Linked DNA regions of Homo sapiens: regions 1, 2, 3 and 4 are each reported to be linked to region 5. Evidence: microRNA targets listed by miRTarBase, many of them from high-throughput screens and not tested one by one. Region 5 holds a microRNA gene; each other region holds the end of a gene's coding sequence. Distances are from middle to middle.
What was found. Region 5 holds the annotated microRNA hsa-miR-5688 (UAACAAACACCUGUAAAACAGC, at 2,534-2,555, shown strand). A microRNA usually pairs through its seed, bases 2 to 8, with sites in the 3' UTR of a target mRNA and lowers its output. Matches are read on the target gene's strand: a 7mer-m8 pairs with bases 2 to 8, a 7mer-A1 pairs with bases 2 to 7 and ends in A, and an 8mer does both.

Region 1: the mRNA of SREK1IP1 is a reported target of hsa-miR-5688. The part of its 3' UTR that is shown has no 7-base or 8-base seed match.
Region 2: the mRNA of PRRT2 is a reported target of hsa-miR-5688. Seed matches in the 3' UTR shown: 7mer-m8 at 2,915-2,921.
Region 3: the mRNA of ADAMTS9 is a reported target of hsa-miR-5688. The part of its 3' UTR that is shown has no 7-base or 8-base seed match.
Region 4: miRTarBase lists MPRIP as a target of hsa-miR-5688. Seed matches in the 3' UTR shown: 7mer-m8 at 964-970 and 7mer-m8 at 1,982-1,988.

Annotation. Positions count from the first base shown.
Region 1 is chr5:64,720,915-64,725,065 of GRCh38, reverse strand. SREK1IP1 (SREK1 interacting protein 1) reads left to right here. Exons shown (of 5, transcript NM_173829.4): 5 at 493-4,151. The coding sequence ends at 682. Among named protein-coding and RNA genes, the nearest start is that of SHISAL2B, 32 kb to the right of the region's middle.
Region 2 is chr16:29,814,420-29,818,564 of GRCh38, reverse strand. PRRT2 (proline rich transmembrane protein 2) reads right to left here. Exons shown (of 4, transcript NM_145239.3): 3 at 4,100-4,145; 4 at 2,684-3,937. The coding sequence ends at 3,927. PAGR1 (PAXIP1 associated glutamate rich protein 1) reads right to left here and starts at 2,413. Exons shown (of 3, transcript NM_024516.4): 1 at 1,558-2,413; 2 at 1,273-1,355. The coding sequence starts at 2,039. All of the region lies in intron 2 of MVP-DT (MVP divergent transcript), which reads left to right. RefSeq lists a silencer at 2,102-2,271 and enhancers at 2,462-2,711, 2,962-3,181, 3,074-3,703.
Region 3 is chr3:64,518,267-64,522,417 of GRCh38, forward strand. ADAMTS9 (ADAM metallopeptidase with thrombospondin type 1 motif 9) reads right to left here. Exons shown (of 40, transcript NM_182920.2): 39 at 3,900-3,994. The coding sequence ends at 3,905. Among named protein-coding and RNA genes, the nearest start is that of ADAMTS9-AS1, 41 kb to the right of the region's middle.
Region 4 is chr17:17,184,569-17,188,719 of GRCh38, forward strand. It overlaps MPRIP (myosin phosphatase Rho interacting protein), which reads left to right. Exons shown (of 24, transcript NM_001364716.4): 24 at 255-4,151. The coding sequence ends at 326. Among named protein-coding and RNA genes, the nearest start is that of PLD6, 20 kb to the right of the region's middle. RefSeq lists enhancers at 233-733, 1,521-1,720, 1,751-1,820.
Region 5 is chr3:85,383,228-85,387,227 of GRCh38, forward strand. MIR5688 (microRNA 5688) reads left to right here and starts at 2,483; the gene lies at 2,483-2,565. The region is part of intron 1 of CADM2 (cell adhesion molecule 2); the gene reads left to right.

The DNA of each region.
Region 1 (4,151 bases), not on the chromosome of region 5:
ATTACCAAAAGTGCTTTTATTTTGCTAACTTTCAGCTTTCATTCATTCATATGAACGTACAATTATAGCCCTTTAAAATAGAGAATTGCAACTTTTGAGACACTTTTAAGAAAATATGCGAAGTTATTGTATACACAAGTGAATATAATAAGGCTTGGTGAATGCCCCTTTGTTTGCCTTTTAGGATTTTGAATGATATGACTGCATGAAAAACCAAAAATCACAGAAAAATAATTTCATCCTTATTGACTTTAAAACTCATTACATTAGTATTGAGTGGAATAGATACTAGTTTTGTTGGTTTCTGTGACCAAGCAGCAAAAATTCTAAATTCATCGTTTTAAGGGAATGCAAATATATGAAGCATTTTTTAAGTTTATGTTTATACTCCCTACCTTACTCCAAGAAGAATTTAAGGCAGTTCAAATCCCACTTAAATTTATCTATCAGTCATAAATGCAATTCTCAGTCAGTATGTATTATTATCCATAGGTCTTACTCATCCAGTTCCACTGAAGAGGACACTTCAAAACAAAAGAAACAAAAATATCAGAAGAAAGAAAAGAAAAAAGAAAAAAAGAGTAAATCAAAAAAAGGGAAACATCACAAAAAGGAAAAAAAGAAGAGAAAAAAGGAAAAGCATTCTTCTACACCTAATAGTTCTGAATTCTCCAGAAAGTAACTGAGACTTTGGCTTAAGCCGTTAAATTTAAAAATTTGTTTTTAAAACGTGTTTGCCCTTCCTTGGAATTTGCTATATATTATGCTTTGCAATAAATCACAGCCTTTTCCATATAGACATTTTTCGTATTTGGGACCATTATCCCTCTGGCAATATATTTTTAATGTGCTGTAACTGTAAAGTATTAAATCAGTCTTGTTACTTGATAGCCATGCCCCAAGTATAGCTATTTGTGTATACTAAACACATCATTTTTGGTATTTGTGTCTCTGTGTGTTTGGCTAGTGTTACTACTTCATAAGTTCATTGTAAAATGGCTTTACTGCCATCAACATGGGTCATCTACCTAGCAGTTAATGAGTATTGCTGGATCAGGTGTCCACCTTCCAATGATGAAGCAAGGTAAGGGGTAATGTTTTGCTCTTGACACAGAGAAATTTAATAGCTTTATGTACTAAAATATAATATCTTTTAAAGATAGTGAAATTCTTCAGTTTTTTAAATCTCTAGGGATTTTTTTTCAATGTTGTAGAAGATGCAGCTGCTTAATGGTCTTGACTAGGACTTTTTAAATGAATGGTGTCTGCAGGTAGATGATCATGAAAATATCTCTAACAAAGTTTTACTCTTCTATGAAATGCAGAATTTCTAGTACCTGCCTCCTTTGTTTTTGTAATAATTAAAATACTTCTTGTATAAAGAGATTAGTTCAGCCTGTTAGTAAGTCTGCAGAGATGATGCTGAGTTGGTTGTGATTTTTAGAATAGACTCCTGGGTTGTTTTACAAATGTGCCATATTGGCATGTCTTACAGTGATACCTCAAACACAGAAATTTTTATTTAGGAAGATAGCTAAATCTTTATTAGAACTGATTTTTATTGTATTCAGTATAAATTTTATGAAGCTTGTTTCTATGAGTACTGTGGAAAATTTTATAAATGTGAGCATATATATTTATTTTGTCTGACATAATTTGTAGTTTTAAAGCAAGTTTCACACTGAACTTAACGTTTTCATAAATGACCAGTTTGGGATGTTTCTCTCTTTTACTTTAGTGGCAAACTCAAGAGTAAAAAGTGTCAAAAAAAGAATTGAGAATTTTATTCTGTACTTTTTAAAATTTAAGAGCCAGGGAGTTGCATCATGAAAGCCTTTGTATAATAATGGAAATTTTATATGGGTAAGCATTTTCAAACACATATTAGTAGATACGTTTTTTAAATTTCTATTTTCACATTGATCAGTGTTACTTTGCTTAATACTTAGGTAGCCCTTATGTCCACTAAAGTAAATGCTTATGTTGTAGAAGCATCGAACATCAACCAATGTCATGGCACAGCACCAAAGATTGCAAATACCTCACTATGGTGCGCTTAGAAATTTTCAAATTGATAACCTATAGATACGGCTGCAGGTGAATTCATGATAGTGAAATCAGCTAAGTATACTTAACCTCACAGGCTAGAAAGGTTTACTGATTCTTGTTTCACCTGGCACCCAATGTGGATACCCTCAGTAAGACTCAGGGAGCCTTATAACTCCTCTTAACATATGCTTACCCATGCTTAAATTCTAGGGAAGCTGTATCCACAGCCCTCTGCATTGCAGCCATGAGAGCTCTCACGCTTTCAACCCTTCCATAACCTAATTTAGTCATTTGGGCCTCTCAAAAGGAAATGCTTTTGTTTAAATAGGTCAGTCAGTTACTGGGAGAAAAAATACAGAGCCAGTAGGTTTTTAGGGATTTGTTTTGCCTTTGCTGCTAGTTTTTTGAAAATATTCTTCGATTATCAAGATTTTAAAAATCGGTTTTTAATATAAAGCTTTTTTAAAAACGAGGCTGGCACAAGTGCAGTGGTGTTTCTTTACTCCCACTGCTTGACTTGACTAGCCTTGAAAAAATAACAGTAAAATAAAATATTAAAAAATAATTAGAAAATGCTACAAAGGCAATGACCTTATTCCATTGAGTAAGATAGTTAAAAATGATAGTAATTGTAGTGAAATAGTTAATTACTTGTAAGTTTTATTACTGTTAATTGTAGAGATTATAAATTGGCTCATTAGGTTTCTGAATGGTGACACAATAATGACTGAGAAGAGCAAAAGTCAGTCCTCGTTAACTAATGTAGTATGCAAATTAAAATATTTTAATGATCAGTAATTTTCCCCCCAGAAATGATGTTGGCATTTCTAAGTAAATTTCCCATAATTTTAGCATAGTTTATGAAATTGAATAAAAATTTATTTTCACTGAAGTAATTTTCTTCTAATATGATATTATTATTGAGATTGGATGCAAATCTCATGAATATGTTTTAGAAGAAAATTAATGAAATTCCCTCCCAGGCAGTATGTACCAGAAGGAAAACTGAATTTAGCAGTAAAACAGTCCTGGTCATTCTAACTACCTGTATGATCTTGAACAAAGTCACTTAGTTTCCCTGGGCCTTGGTGTCTTTCGTCTATAAAATATTGTACCAGATTATCTCTGAAATCACTTCAAGGTTTAATATATATAATTATCAATATTTTAAAATTCAAGCAATATTCACTTTAGAAATTATTATAACATTCTATAATAGTAAAGGTTGAATTTATTAATATAATAAACACGTTCAACTTCTTCAAGCAGATAATTGATATTTGGTTCATATTCTTACAACCTAATGCATGTCATTTTCACCAAATGCAGGCAGAATTTATATTTAGGTTTGCATCTGGAACTAGATTATCTGGCACTTTATGGCCATTATTTTTGGGTTGATGGACCTTCTCACCACACAATTTCCCCCTTTTTTTTTTTTGCATATCATATGTTGGTTGATATTTCTCAGAGGTATCCCTATTTCTTCATACTTAATATACATCTCCATTTACATCTTTGACTCTCTGAGGTCAAAACAACAATAAATGAGAAGTAAAACAACTATATGTGTTTGTATTTACAACTGTATCTAAAATTATATAACCCTAGTTTACCTTCAGAGTAAACTAGGCTGAAGAGTTGTTAATAATGTTGATAAAAATGCCATTGAATCCTTTCTTCAACAAATATTTATTGAGTACCTAACGTGGCAAACGCTGTGCTAAGTACTGGGGATACAGAGATAAGTAAGACACATTTGCCTCCCTGAAGGACTTCACAGTGTAGTTGGTAGGAGAAACACCAGAGCATACACCGTTATATAATTAGTGCAGTAATTGACATGAACATGAGTTTATAGAAACTCGGGGTTACCTAAAGTAGTCTGGATAAATTAGAAGAGGCTACCTAGAGAAAGTAGTGACTGAATTGCAATTTGATTAAGGATAAGAATGAGGGTTATGGCAGTTCCTGACAGAGTGGGTACTGTGAACAAACACCAGAGGTAGAACAAGCTGTGTTATGTGTTTGTCAAGAATTACAAGCAATCTGGTGTTGCTGGTGTATCATAGGCGAGGCAGGAAGTGGTAAGAATTGAGACT
Region 2 (4,145 bases), not on the chromosome of region 5:
TATGATTTATGTTTTAAAAGGTTCATCTGAATTGCAGAAGCTGGAAGCAGAGAGCCCAGTTAGGAGCTACTACAACTATCCAGGCAAGAAAGACAGTGGCTTGGATGGGGATGTGGTATTGAAAGTGGAGACTAGCAGAGGTACTTGGAAATGTACATCTTATAGCTACCAAGACTTGCTGCTGGTGTGAATGTTCAGGTAAAAGAGAGAGAAATCAAGAATGGCTCTAGGCTGGGTGCAGTGACTCATGCCTGTAATCTCAGCACTTTGAGAACCGAGGCGGATGGATCACTTGAGCTCAAGAGTTCGAGACCAACCAGTCTGGGCAACACAGCAAGACTCTGTCTCTCCACCCCTCAAAAAAAAGAAAAAAGGAAAGGCATGACTCTGAGGGTAAATTCTAGGAAGGCATGTGGGGTGGGAAATGGGGCCAGCGGTGTGATTAAAGAATGTACATGGTAGTAGAGGGATGCAGATCTAGATAATATTGAAAGGCCAGGACTTGGACTTCTGGGAATGGGAAACATGATAGAATTATCTGTAATTTTCCAGAATCAATGACTAGTTGTTTTTTTAAAAAAAGAATTATCTGTAATTGTGTTTTTTGAGACGGAGTCTCACTCTCTCGCCCAGGCTGGAGTGCAGTGGTGTGATCTCAGGTCACTGCAACCTCCACCTCCCAGGCTCAAGCGATTCTCCTGCCTCAGCCTCCTGAGTAGCTGGGACTACAGGTGCCCGCCACTATGCCCGGCTAATTTTTTGTATTATAATTGTCTCTTAAAGGAAGACAAGGGGCCAGGCGCATTGGCTCATGCCTGCAATCCTAGCACTTTGGGAGGCTGAGGTGGGCGGATCACAAGGTCAGGAATTCAAGACCAGCCTGGCCAACATGGTGAAAGCCTGTCTCTACTAAAAATACAAAAATTGGCCCAGAGTGGTGGCATGCGTCTGTAATCCCAGCTACTTGGGAGGCTGAGGCAGGAGAATTGCTTGAACCCAGGAGGCGGAGGTTGCAGTGAGTTGAGATCGTGCCATTGCACTCCAGCCTGGGGGACAAGGGCAAGACTCCATCTCAAAAAAAAAAAAAAAAAAAAAAGGAAGACAAGGTAGTAATCTAAGTCATAAAGATGGTGCTACTGGGTGAATACTCTCTCCTGCAGCTGTAAGTTGTGTGGGAGCTGAGGCAGCAAGCAAAGGCCTCTAGGGGAGCCGATCTTGGGTAACTGAGCCGAGGCCCTTCACCTCCCCCAACTGTTTCCTCTTCGTTTGTACCTGGGGTGCGTCTCCGGTCAATCAGGGAGTCCTTTGGTGTCACTGGCTCATCATCAAAATCAAATTCCGTGGGCATGTGTGGTCTGGGACAGGTGAACATAGTTAAGGGTGAGGGCGGTCCTCCCTCCCACCCACACGTGTGCTTCTCCCCTGCCCGTTCCTCCTCCCCCGCTGGCTTCCCTCCCTCCACTTTCAAAGGTTCCAGCGTCCCACATTTTCCCCTCCCTATTTCCTCCCGCCATCAGGGGAGCAGCCCCGGGACAAGGTGTAAGGGTGTGCCTTTACTTTTCCTCTTCCTCTTCTTTGGCCTCCGGCTCCTCATCGGATCTCTCCTCTTCGCTCTGGGCCTCCGGCGTGGGAGGCCGGCGGGGCAGGATCTCGGCTTGCAGCTCCAGAGTACCGTGGGCAGCCAGCAGTTCATAGAGCCGCTGGATTTCGGAGGGCGGGGGCATCCAGGGCTGCCCATCCGCAGGCAGCTCCACCTCCTCGTCGCTGCAGGGCACGCACCAGTCCTCGGAGTCCTCCTCGGCAGGCTCTTCTCCCCCAGCGCTGGGGACTTCTCCCTGCGCCTCCTCGCCCCCGGACCCCTCACGCTCGGTCTCCTCTCGGCCTCCTTCCCCCTCGTCCTCGGCCTTACCGGCCGAGGCAGAGGGGCCTCCGGTATCCTCCACGGCCAGAGCCTGGAGGCCGGAGGTCACTTCCCCTTCTTCAGACAGAGGCGCCGCCGTACTGGCCGCAGTGTCTCCATGGCCCCGAGCAAGGGACATAGGCCACTAGGGCAGGGACCCTGCGACGACAGATACTGGAGTCCGAAGCCAGGGTCCCCCAGGGATCGGGCTCCCCTGGGGGTTCGGGACCGTTTCCAGCCAATCACGCTCCCGCAGGGGACTCCGCGGCCAGACCGCCCGTCCCCGGGAGGGGGCGCTCAGTCCCCACCAAGGACCCCGCCCCGGAGATCGAGGTTCGGTACTCCGAGGCTCCCGGGCCCCGCAGAAACCACTTTCCGAAAGAGGGAAAGGGGGAGGAGAGGGACGGGCCACTCTTCTCGCTTCCACGACGCCCCTCTCCACACCCGGACACGGCGCCTTCTCCCCAGACCTTTCAGTTGTGGGCCACGTCAAGTCAGATGCCGTACGCACCTGGAGCTAAGACCCGCCTCCCAGGCTGCGCAGGGTCACGCTACGCAGGCGCACAGAAATGGCGCGGGAGGCTCCGCTCTAGGCAAGGCTACTTGGAAGAGGAAAGCGAGGGAAGGCTTGCACATGCGCGAGTAAGCGCACAGGCTTCAGCCCACAGTAAAGATGGCCACCGGGAAGTCGCATGCGTATACCACCCAGTAAGGTTCTGCCAGAAAGGCAGCACCGCCGGGCCGGCGGGACGAACGCAGGAACCAACCGAGATTGGAGGCGAGTCTCATGCAGTCTCCGTTTATTGGTGTTTCAGACTCATGCAGCATCCGGCATACAAAAAGGGAGAAATCAGTTTGATAATAGCCTTTTTTTTTTTTTTTTAAGAATTTTAGTTTTTTTCTTCCCCCAGACTTTTTTTTTTTTTTTTTTTTTTTTTTTAAGGAAAAAAACCCCCGCCAAATCCGAACCGCGTTGTAGCTCGGTCCCCGCCTCCTCAGCGGGCTGTCGCGTGCAACAAACCTCCCCCATCATCTTAGAAAATAATTATAGAGCGCGGCGCCCCGCCCTCGCTCCTGCCAGTGGGCGCTTTGGTCCTATTTTTTGGATTATTTCATTACGAAGCACGTGAATGAATCTAGCCCCCACACCTTCAAGAAAGAAACTCGCGGACTGGGGTTGAAAAGCCCAGGTGGGCGGGTCAACTCCAGCTGACCTGGAAGGGTCAGCGCCGCGTCCCTCCCTTCTCCCCTGCGTGCGTTCGGAACCAGTACTCGCCACCCTCACCCGAGTCCCCATACGAGGCCCGGCTTGCCAACTCTGCGACCTGCCAGGCACCCTTGGGTGTCCGACCCTGGGTGGTCCCAGCAGAGAACAGTCCGAGCCTGGGGTTGGGGAGCCCTCTCCCAACACTGCTCCCTGCCCCCAAGCCTCGTCTAAGTGCTGTCAATTTTGCAGAGTAAACGGTGACGGGAGGTTGGAGAAGAGGATGCTTAAGGGAGATGAGGAGGCAGGAAGAGGAAGGGGGCGGGACGTGGAGAGGAAAGGGGAGATGATAAAGAAGGGAAGGAAGAGAGGACTGAGGGTTGAGAGATGCCAAGACAATGAAAGTTGGGAGGAGGCGGCCAGGGTGGAGGTCCAGAGAATTTGGGGGGCTGGAAGAAGTGCAGGGAGGCCAGGAGAGATGCAGGGAGGCTGAGAGCGCAGAGTTGGGGAGGTGTTCAGGGAGGTTTCCAGAGTGCAGGGAGGTTTCCAGAAGTGCAGGGATAGGGGGCCAAGAGGCCGGAGGGGATGCAGGCATTAGTGCAGGGAGGTTGGAACCAGTGCAGGGATGAGGCAGGCCTACAGTTGGCAGAGGAGCCTGGCAAGATGCAGGAGCAGGACAGAAGCTGTAAACAAGGCCGCTCAGGCTCCCTTGGTCCTTAGGGGTGGGGGCCAGGGCCATCAGTTGGGCTCCCCCCAGGGGAGGGATGGGCCCAAGGCAGCTCCCAACAGGAAGAAAAGTCTTGGGATGCGGGGCAGAGCCCCTCACTTATACACTGTGGGAGAGGAGAGGGAAGGACAGACGGGGGGAGGGGGAGACAAGGAGAGACAAAGGAGAGGTAAGGAGGACAGACAGGAGAGAGCAGGGGCAGGGGTTAGTAAAGCTGCCCTTGCCAACCCTTCCATTCCTCCCCTGCCTGTCCCAAGCCCCCACTCACCGCCTAAGTTGATGACGCAGGAGGCGATGATGATGAGGACTCCCCC
Region 3 (4,151 bases), 21 Mb from region 5:
AATTTCCTTCATTTCCTTAGCTCCTTGTAACAGAAATAATCCTAAATGTCAAATAGGCACTCTTGTATCAGGATCTTCAAGAGCCTTACACGGTAATGGGCTACTGGAAGCTTGAGGGAAGATGCAGGTGGGTCACATGAATTGGTTGAGCTCATTCCTTGCAGCTGAAGACATGGGGATGATAAAAAGACTGACCAGTTCCGTCTTTTACTCAGCAGAAGAATCACCTTCTGGCATAATGTACTCAGGTCAGGGATTGCCGAACTTTAACATGCATGACTCCTGTGGACTTTGTTAAAATGCAGATTCTGATTTCACAGGTATAGGGTGAGGCCTGACATTGTGCATTTCTAACAAGTTCCTAGGTAAAGCTGATCGAGCTGATTCTTGGACCACACCATGAGTAACAGGGGTGTGGCACAGTGGAGTGATTAAGAGCACTGGCTTTAGTGTAGGACACTCTGAGTTCTGCCGAGGGAATTTATCATTACCTTTTCATTTTTTTTTTTTTTTTTTTTTTTTTTGAGACAGAGGCTTACTCTCTCACCCAGGCTGGAGTGCAGTGGCGGGGCGTGGTCTTGGCTGACTGCAACCTCTGTCTCCCAGGTTAAAGCGATTCTCCTGCCTCAGGCTCCCAAGTAGCTAGGACTACAGGCATGTGCCAACACACCCAGCTAAATTTTGAATTTATAGTAGAGATGGGGTTTCACCATGTTGGCCAGACTGGTCTCAAACTCCTGACCTCAAGTGATCTGCCTGCCACAGCTTCCCAAAATGCTGGAATTACAGGCATGAGCCACCGTGCCCAGCCTCATCATGATCTTAAGCAAGTTACTTAATTGTTGTGGGCCTCAGCTTCCTCATATGTAAAATAGCAGCTCCTCCACACAGTTTTGTTGTGAGGATTCAATGAAATATTGCTCAACAAATGCCACTGTAGTTTTACTATTACATTCTTGGGATGTATTTCTCAAAGGATGAGCTGTGATTCACTTGCATTAGAATTCTCTGTATTAAAGTTACAGATCCCTGAATCCACCAGAGACCTAATGAAGCAGGACCCCTAGAGATGCAGCCCAATAAACAGCCTTTTAAATAAGCTCTGCAAAGAGCTGGTACCAATCCTATTGAAACAATTTTTTCAAAATCGAAGAAGAGATATTCCTTCCTAACTCATTCTATGAAACCTCTATCATCCTGATACCAATACCTGGCAAAAACACAAGAAAAAAAGAAAACTACAGACTAATATCCCTGATGAACATTGACATGAAAATCCTCAACAAAATACTAGCAAACTGAATCCAGCAACATACCAAAAAGATAATCTACCATGATCGAGTGGACTTTATTCTTGGCAGGCAAGGATCATTCAACATATGCAAGTCAATAAATGTGATTCACCACACAAACAATTAAAAACAAAAACAATATGACCATATCAATAGATGCAGAAAAAGCATTAGATAAAATCCAACATCCCTTCATGATAAAAACCTACAAGGCATAAGACATCAAAAGAACATACCTCAAAATAAAAGCCATCTCTAACAAACCCACAGCCAATATCATACTTAACAGGCAAAAGTTGGAAGCATTCCTCCTAAGAATGGGAACAAGACAAGAATGTGTACTCTCACCACTCCTATTCAACATAGTATTGGAAATCTTAGCCAGAGCAATCAGGCAAGAGAAAGAAAGAAAAGACATCAAAAGAGGAAAAGAGGAAGTCAAATTATCTTCCTTCACTGACAATATGATTCTATACAAAGAAAACCCTAAATATTCCACCAAAAGATTCCTAGACCTGAAAAATGACTTCAGTAAATTTTCAGGGTGCAAAATAAATGTACAAAAATCAGAAGCATTTCTATACACAAATAACATTCAAGCTGAGAACCAAATCAAGAATGCAATCCAATTTACAGTCACCACAAAAAGAATAAAATACCTAGGAATACATCTAATCAAGCAGGTAAAAGAGCTCTACAAGGAGAATTATAAACATTGCTTAAGGAAATCATAGATGACACAAATAGAAAAACGTTCCATGCTCATCTATTGGAAGAATCAATAGCATTAAAATGTCCATACTGCCCAAAGAAATACACAGATTCAACAAAATTCCCATCAAATTACCAATGTTATTCTTTACAGTGTTAGAAGAAGAACTATTCTAAAATTGATATGGAACCAAAGCAGAGCCTAAAAGCGAAAGCAATCCTAAGCAAAAAGAACGAAGCCAGAGGTATCATATTACCGGACTTCAAACTCTACTCCAAGGCAGCAAACTAAAGGTAACCAAAACAGCATGGTACTGGTACTAAAATAGACACAAAAATTAATGGAACAGAATAAGGAACCCAGAAATAAAGCTATACATCTATAACCAACTGGACTTCAACACAATCAACAAAAATAAACAATGGGGAAAGCACACCCTATAATAAATGGTGCTGGAAAAACTGGCTAACCATATACAGAAGAATGAAATTGAACTCTTACCTCTTACCATATACAAAAAATAACTCAGGATACATTAAAGACTTAAATGTAAGACTTCAAAACATAAAAATTCTAGAAGAAAACCCAGGAAATACTCTTCTGAACATTGGCCTAGGCAAACAAATTATGACTAAGTCCTCAAAAGCAAATGCAACAAAATGAAAATTGATAATGGAGACCTAACTAAATTAAAGAGCTTCTGCACATCAAAAGAAACTATCAACAGAATAAATGGACAATCTACAGAATAGGAGAAAACATTTTTAACCTATACATTTGATAAAGGAATAATATCCAGAATCTATAAGGAACTTAAGCAAATCAACAAGAAAAAAACAAATAACCCTATTAAAAAGTGGGCAAAGGACATGGACAGACACTTCTCAAAAGAAGACACACAAGCAGCCAACAAATATAAGAAAAAATGCTGAACATCACTTATCATCACAGAAATGCAAGTCAAAACCACACTGAGATAACATCTCATGCCAATCAGAATGGCGATTCTTAAAAAGTAAAAAGATAACAGATATTGGTGAGACTGCAGAGAAAAATGGAATACACTGTTGGTGGGACTGTAAATTAGTTCATCCTTTGTGAAAAGCAGTTTGGAGAGTTCTTAAAGAACTAAAAATATAACTACCATTTGACCCAGCAATCCATTACTGGGTATATATCAAAAAGAAAATAAATCATTCAACCAAAAAGACACCTGCACTCACATGTTTATTGCAGCACTATTCACAATAGCAAACGTGGAATCAACCTAGGTACCGATTAATGGTGGACTGGATTTTAAAAATGTGGTCTGTATACATGATGAAATACTATGCAGCCATAAAAAATAATGAAATCATGTCCTTTGCAGCAATATGGATGCAGCTGGAGGCAATTTTCCTAAGTGAATTAACACAGAAACAAAAAATCAAATACCATATGCTCTTGCTTATAAGTGGGAGTGGAATACTGGGTACACATGGACATAAAGACTGAAATAATGGACACTGGTAACTCCAAAAGGGAGGAGGAAGGGAAGGGAAAACTATTTATTGGATACTACTTTCACTATTTGGGTGATGGGTTCAAACGAAGCCTACATCTCAACACACTATAACAGTGTAACAAACTTGCACATGTACCTCCTGAATCTAAAATCTAAAAGCAAATAAATAAATAGGCCAGCTCTGTAGAGGGGAAGCCATGTCTAATGGCAGAGAACTGATGGCTTCAGTCACGTGAGGACAGAGGAGCAGGAGATAAAAAGGTAGAACTGTATTGGGTCAGCTTCAAGATGCTTAACTGTAACCCTGCCTGATCCTCCCACATTTGCTCATATAGGCTACAGAAAAAAATAAAAGACAAATACACAGACAGACAGACATAGGACTACTTACCTTAGCTATAAAACTCGCACCTCCAGGCCAGTACCAGAGGATGGAGTGCATTTTCCACAGTAACCACCGCATTTCCCTACGACTCGGGTACCATCCTGCAAGGAGATGCATCATGTTAGCCTGCCTGCTTGGTTAATGCTTTCAGGGCCTGCACTGGCTTTTTGGGAAAACGTTCTTATACACACAGTAAACAGGCCTTCTGAACTGATGTGAAGCCCAACATACTCACCATGGTCTAAAGCAGGGGCTGGC
Region 4 (4,151 bases), not on the chromosome of region 5:
AGCTGCTTAAACACATGGTCTTGTCTCTCTGATTTTTTTTTCCTTTTTCATCCAAGTAATTTTGTGAAGGGGAAAACATCCTCCAATAACAGCATTTCCCGGGGACTCTCCTCCTGGCATGCCCACTAACCGCACCTGCACCCGGCTCTCTGACTGATGCCGGCTCCACCAGCGGTCCGGTCTGGTCCGGTCCGGTCCAGTGCAGGGGGTCTAACGGTGTGTTTATTTTCTCCTCCTGCTCTGTCTCTACCCAGAGTCTGAAGGAAGGCCTGACGGTGCAAGAACGGTTGAAGCTCTTTGAATCCAGGGACTTGAAGAAAGACTAGGTGTGTCCCATCCAAGTTGAGCACGCGCCTTCCCCAGCTTGCAGCAGCACACCCCAAGCGCTGCTTTTCACCTGTACCTTTGTTTTATTATTATTATTATTATTGCTGTTGTTGTCATCGTTAACTGTGGGCATGGAATGCGTGAGGCTGGCTTCTGGGTTGTCCACACCACTCTCTGCTGTGTTGACTTCCTGTTGTCTTCATCAAAGCTTTTTTCCGTGGTATTCTAAAATTAGGCCAGCAGTGGGGGCTGGGAGGGCATCTGTGTTAGTCCTTTCCTGGCTGTGACCCGCCACACTCACTGTCAGTATTAAGGCCCAGCAGCCTGTTGATAAGCTACCCTGTCTCACCATGTGCTGGTGTGGAAACGGGGCCCAGCCAGCACGCCTCAAGGTAGATGGAATCCCCACTGGTCAGAGAAAAAGCTATGCGGACACTCCAGCTTGGCCTGGGTCACAGCACTGACTCCTCACCCGCTAGTCTGGCTGTTAAGAGGAGAAAGTGCACTGCCTTCCAGCCCAGGAGGAGGACAGCATTTTGTATTTGTTCCACTGATGCAGCTTAGAACCACACCCCTGAGAGTCGTGGCAAACCTTTCACAACCTGGAAAATGTTGAAAGCAACCATTCCTATTTTTGTTTGTTTTTTATTAAATCTTGCACAAAATCCCCGGCCCCTCTCCTTCCTTCCTTCCTTCCTTCCTCCGCTCGTTCCTTTCTTGGTCTCCAGTAACCCTGGTCTTTTCATAACTGCTCGAGATTGTTGACCTGCAGCCCAGGTTTCAGACTCTGATTGCAAAAAACAAATGAATTCCCCCCAGGAATCATTCAAAATGGGGGAAGGTTTGGGGGTTTGGGTTTTTTTTTTACCTTTTGGAAAAGAAACCGTCACATTGCTTTGGAAAAGGTTGAGAGGAGACCCCTGTTAAGTCAAGAAGAAAGTACAGAGGATGTCAGAATCTGATGAGAACAGCACATTAGTGTTTATTGAGACTCCGATCTTAACTCTCATTTAATTAATCTGAGCTCTGAAAACCTATCTTGCAGCATTTATCTTTAAAAGAGCCTGGTTAAAGTAAACCTATACTAACAATTTTGCTTTTTCTAACAGTTTGAGGAAGACCTTTTTAACCACCACAAAACATTCTATGGCAATTCTTGAAAATCTCTTAAATTGGAGTCTATTATGGCCCCATGAAAACCATTAATCCCATTAAGATAGGGAGTATAAACCCCTGGCTGGTGGAACAGGTTCTGCTACTTTAGGAGCAAGGTGGGGTGTGAGTAGATGGTTTTCATGCCAAGAACATGCTTTCACTTTGTATTCATGCTTGTGTTGGTGTGATGGTCTCTGTGGGTGGGTGGATGCTTTGGGCGTTGAAATCTAGAAATCCTGTTGCTCAGTTTCTAGATGAAGTCATGAGCAAGGCCATCAGTGGAGCTCTGGCCCCGCCCCCAATGTGCAGAAGGGCCGGGAGCAAGGCCTGGAGTTTTCATGTGTTTTCAGACCCAGGTTTAGGTGCTCTCTTCTCACTGAAATAACTAAGTGCTCTCCACTGGCATCGAGCCCTTTCCACAAGTTTTTAAGGCTCTTAACCCACACTTTCACTCCTCTGCTACTAGTCTTCAGTGTTGTTAACAGCAAGAGAAAATTGGGTTTGTTTAAAAATCTACTTCTCTGAGGTGGCACAGTTGCGTAGCTGTAGTCCCAGCTACTCAGGAGGCTGAGGTAGTAGGATTGCTTGAGCCCGGGAGGTCGAGGCTGCAATCAGTCATGATCGTGTCACTGCACTCCAGCCTGGGTGACAAAGCAAGGCCCCATATCAGATATAGATATACTTATCAGACCCCCCCTGACCATTTAGATTGGCAGTGCTTTGAGAAATGCACTATGACCTTTCTGTGTCAATGGGAATATACAGAAGGAACATTCGGGACCCCGCTGTCCCCCACAGCCTCATTGTTGTCTCCAGGACACTGCTGGGTCACACGAATGCTCCAGGACAGACAGGGACCTGGAGTGCATCAGGATCTGACCAGATAGGAGTTTTTGCCTCGTGTCTGGGTGCTACGATTTTGTGCCGTTCTCTGAGGTCCACCACCTGCCCTTCCTGGCATGGTTTCCTTCGTGACCATCCCTGCTGCCCCTGGGGGTGGACCCCACTGGCCCTTCTGCAGACAGCTCCCTGCCTTCTGCCCTCCAGGGGGTTCTGGCCAGAGTCCATGCTTGGAGACAGGATCATCTGCCTTCAGCCCTCACAGTGCTTTAAATTAAAGCAAGTTTGCCCATAGGACAAAAGAGCATTTGATTCCCTTTTTTCTGTCACATATCCCTTGAGGCTGGACTTCAGGAATCCTGGAAAATTAATATGAGTGCAGCATGTGAGGGGTCAGAGACAGGCCAGCAGGGCGTCTGCATTCCTCCCTGCCACAGGTCTCTCCCCAGAGGCTGGTTTAGTGTAGGGTATTGCCAGGAAACGGACTGAGGCTGCTTTGCTAAGAGCTCCTGAAAATGCCCTGGGCCTGTCCTGGCGTTTCTGAAGAGCCCTCATACAGGGACAGCCACCATCTGGGTCAAGGAAGTCTGGGTTCCCTGCTGGTGGGCTCCATCCTGCGATGGAGTGAACCAGGCGAGAAAGGATGACGATGTTCTTCATGTTGCACCTGGACATGCCCCAGGAACAGAGACTTGCCCAGGTGGCAACACTGGCACAGATGTTGACGGCTGCCCAACTGGTGCCACACTGAGCAGGGAGCCTTGTGCTGCACAGGGCTGGGCCCTCTCTCCAGTTTCCTTCCTGCAGGCATCCAAATACCCTGGAAGGGATTTAACCCCTGAATTCCAGAGGGAAGAAAGAAGAACAGTGAAGAAGTAGAACTGGTTTCTGTATGGGGAGAGGAAAGTCTTAGGGACAGCTGCAGGCGGGGTCTCAGGCTGCTCCTTGGCACCAGCTACACAGTAGTGAGCTTTCCCAGCTTTACCGATGAGGAAGAAGTTCAAATAGATAGACTTCAGCATTTTAATTATTTTCCTATAAATGTATTTATGTGTAGTATGCTAGCACCAGCCAGTAAGCTGTGCCACACATATGAATGGGAAAGCGAGGCAGTTGTGCTCGTGTGAGTTTCTGCAGGCTTGTGGGTAATTACCTTGTGTGCACGCCTGCACGTGCAGAATAGTCACTTTCTGCTGGTCAGTTTCTTTATCCACCCATGGTGCCCCAGCCCCAGGCAGGTGTGGAGACCAGCATTTCAGAGGACGCGCTGTCCACAGCCTCCCGGGTCTGAGTGGATCATTGGGCAGGGGTGGAGACAGTGCGCTGCCCTCTGAGCTGGAAGCCTGTGCTTCAGGGAGTCATAATGGGCCTGTGCTAAGTGGGTGATGCAGTGGACATCCCAGGGCGACTAGAGGTGGCAGTATCGCGAATTTGCAGGTTTATTGAACAAGAGGTAACATCGGAGAGGATCTTGCCTTCGGATTCAGCAAGTATGAAGGCAGAAGAGCATGGAGAGCAAGGCCCCACAGCCTGCTTAGTGAGTTGGAAGGCCCAGCAAGAACCTGTTTCTGCAGCAGCCACCAGCTCCCATCACCCCTTGACCCTCCAGCTCATGCTGGAGAAGAGGGAATTTTGGCTGTTTAAAGAACACAGTTGTGAATCTCAGAATGTGCCTGAAAGGAATACTGACAGATAAGGCCGGAAACAAAACTGATGGCTTGAAAAACATTTTTATGGAATGTATTTACTATCATTTTGTTTTACTATAGAGGTAGATGGGACTCTTAACTTTTGGGTACATGGAAACATGCTGAAAACTGAACACAATC
Region 5 (4,000 bases):
TCTGAATCTGCTGTGACTCTGGAGACTGCCTGATTCGTGAATTGTTTTTCTTGTTTGTTTTTTGTTTGTCTTGCTCAATTAAACTCTGTTAATTTGTCTGAAGTTTTCTTTTAACAGTGCTAAAATTAGACAATTTCAAAAATATGAAATTAGATAATTTCATTAGATAAATTGAATTAGATAAATCAGAAAATTAGAAATATATCAGTCATATTTTAAGCATTTCATACACAAGATTGTGGAAAAAAGTTAATATAATACTTTATACATAAAACCATATATATATATGTATATATATATATATATATATACATATATATATACATATAAACATTTACCACCATCCAGTTAAATAACTGACCACTAACCATTTCATTCAATTATCCTCATTTTTCTCTCCATTGGAATTCTCATTCCTCCCAAGGTTAACCAGTCGTTTGAACATTTTTATATCATTTATTTTCTTTTCATTATTTATACAATATATTTAAACTTTTTATGATTTTAAATTTTATATAAATGATTTCATATTGTATACATTCTTCAATACTCACTGTTCCTCCTTTGATATTTTGTTTTCAAAAAAGTTCCATTCCTTTGTTGATTTCCACCACTATATAGTATTTTGTTTAATGAATATAACTTACCACTATTTATCATTTCTTCTTTGATGAATAATTGAGTTATTTCTAAGTATTTTTCTTTTAAAAACTGTGTTTCTCTGAAAAGACTAATAAATATCTCATGATCATGTTGTACATGTGCAGTAATTTCCAGGAATGAAACTGCTGGATTAAATAATTTGCAAATATTCAAATTTGCCAGAAAAATTCAAATTGGTTTCAAGGAAATAATACCAGTTTACACTTCCACCAATGTTGCATATTCTACTTCTACATTCTTGCATATTCTTGTTATGGTATCTTTTAAATCTGTACCTGTCTGAAGAAAGAAAAACGACATCCCATTGTTATATATTTTTTGCTGATTATGTAGAGAGTATCCATATATCTTATAGAATGCACTGCTGAAATGCATGTGTGCATTTTTCACCATTGGGTGTTAAATTTTTCTTTTTTTTCTTCTATTTTTTGTTTTATTTTTTTAAGATGGAGTTTTGTTCTTGTTGCCCACGGTGGAGTGCAATGGTACCGTCTTGCTGCAACCTCCACCTGCGGGGTTCAAGCTATTCTCCCGCTTCAGCCTTCTAAGTAGCTGGGATTACAGACACCCGCCACCACGCCCGGCTAATTTTTTTGTATTCTTAGTAGAGACGAGGTTTCACCATGTTGGCCAGGCTCCTCTGAAAGTCCTGACTTCAGGTGATCCGCCCGCCTCAGCCTCCCAAACTGCTGTGTTTACAGGCGTCAGCCACCGCGCCCGCCCTCCTTTTCTTATTGGTCAGAAGCTTATTATTCTCTGTGTAATATTTTGTCAAAAAAAATGTGTGTGTGTGTGTGTGTGTGAGTGTATACTTGTGTGTGTATATATATATAACAATTATATAATTTTCCATGGGTATGTGGCTTTTCTTTTTATACTGCAACCTTTGATAAACCTTTATAAACAAAAGCTTTAAATTTCAAATTACTGGAATTTATTGACCTTTTATTTCAGGAAAAAAGAAAGATTATATACCCAATTGCATATAAATATATAAATGTTTTCCTATATCCTCCAATAAAGCTTTGTTTACTTTATTATTTATTTATTTATTTATTTTCTTGAGATGGAGTCTCACTGTGTGGCCCAGGCTGGAGTGTAGTGGTGTGATCTTGGCTCACTGCCACTGCCGCCTCCAAGGCTGAAGTGATTCTCCTGCCTCAATTTCCTGAGTAGCTGGGACTACAGGTGCGCTCCAGCACACCTGCTAATTTTTGTATATTTAGTATAGATGGGGTTTTGCCATGTTGTCCAGGCTGGTCTCAAGCTCCTGTCCTCAGGTGATCCACCTGCCTCAGCCTCCCAAAGTTCTGGGATTACAGGCGTTAGCCACCATGCCCAGGCGACACACTGTTTATTTTTTATTCATTTACATTTGCAACCCTTAACCAGTTAAGAAAAGAAACAATGATATGCTGAATTTTTCAAAACAGAAAAAAATATATGTTGTTTGGGAGGAGAGTGAGCAGGGAGGGAAAATGTATAGATTAACTGATAGTAGGGGAGAGAATCATAGACATGGCTCATTTGTTAATGTTTAGAAATGCATGTCCTATGGCCTTTTGCAAGTAAATAAAACTTAATCATGGATATGTTTTGGTAAATAACTTATTCATCCTTGTTTTATGAGGTTGGGCTATGATGTAGTAAAATCTATCAAATAAATAATAGCACAGGAAAGAATTGAGTTTTGGCAGGTTCATGTTGTTAAGAGCAATTTATTTGAGTGATCCCTATTTTTTTTCAGTGGAGAGAGAATATATTCTTTTTTAATTATGTTCAACATTGATTTTTTTTTTCAACCGAAAATACCCTTTGAGAAACACTTTGCCTTTTTACAGGAGTTTATTATGTTTTGGACATAGAAACATAACAAACACCTGTAAAACAGCAAAGTGTTTCTCTCTCTCTTTTTTTTTTTTTTTGGAAACTAGATGCCTTAAGATTGTATAAATTGAACATTCTCGCTTTGACATAAAATTGGATGTTATTCTGAAAAAGTTTCTACTGAGCATAGTACACATATTCATTTTGCATGTTACATTCATATCATGTTTTAAGAATAAATGAAGACATTCTAATTTGCATTAACAATTATATTTAAAACAAATAAATATAGAACAAAGTACCATATGAACAATCATGCAGAACAAAGTGAGAAGCTATGTTTGAAGGAATCTCGGCTTTCCCCTAACTACATACTACTTTATTTGCATCCTTGCCATCGTACTCACTAGGCTGCAGTAAGCAGAGACCACAGGCCTCTGGAGGTTTCAGGAGTGATTTCATACCTGTGTATAAATTCAAGGTAGCTAATTATTTTGAAAGTCATTTTTGGTGGTGGTTACTTTGAGAGATATGCACTTAGTTGATAAACCATTTATAAATAGGTAGAGATTGTAGGGAACGTGGTCCAACCTTAGCAAAGAGAATACAAGAAAGTATAAAGTATTAAGGAGAGCAGGTCCCATCCTGAAACTGGAGAATGGGAATTGGGTGGGGAGAACAACTAGATAGGGCAACTGAGCAAGCTAAGAAATTCACAATTAAGGCAGTAGGGTGAGACCTCTGAGTGACCATTCCTAAACTAGCAGGTTGTCTGAAGACCCAAATTCTTGGTTCATCCTTGTCCATGTGGGATGCTTGCTCCAGCTAGAATATAAAAACAGAATTTCAAACCTGGGCTGTGCTTCTCACTGACAGTGTGCGTGTTGTGGGCAGAGTACTTAAACCTTGTTGTGGGTTAGTTTTTGTATTTGTTGACTAGAGACTGAAATACTTACCAGGGTTGGAAGGATAATTAAAAGAGACAATGTAAGTGAAAACACCGTGAATACTACCTTTTGCATGTTAAGGATTACTACTAAAGTGTGAGAATGAGAAGGGAGGAATTGAGCACACACTTGAGGGAGAAAATCTTCATATTTGCCAGAAAACACAGAAAAGCCCAGGACAACATGTTTCCCCATTTGCATCCAGTATGAAAGGCAGGCATTTCTCATATGTGGAATATTCTCATAGGTGGAATAAAAATCATTCCCTTCAGTATGTTGTATCTTTATTTACTTGTCCCTAACTTTACCCCACCATATAAACAATAGCAGTTCCACAGGCAGGCTAAGCCTCCTGGCTCAGTCTGGGTTCCTAAAGCAATCTCTCTGAGTAAGGAATACTCTGGGAGTTAGGAGAGAATTTGTCTCATGGAGCCGCTGGGGGAAAAGGTACACAAATTAAAGTTTTGTTGAAAGTAGCAAAAAGGGATGGAAAGCTGGTCAGGCTACAGACCATGCCCATTACACTATATTTAGTGTAGGTGTTTGGAAAAGTAATTTTTCCC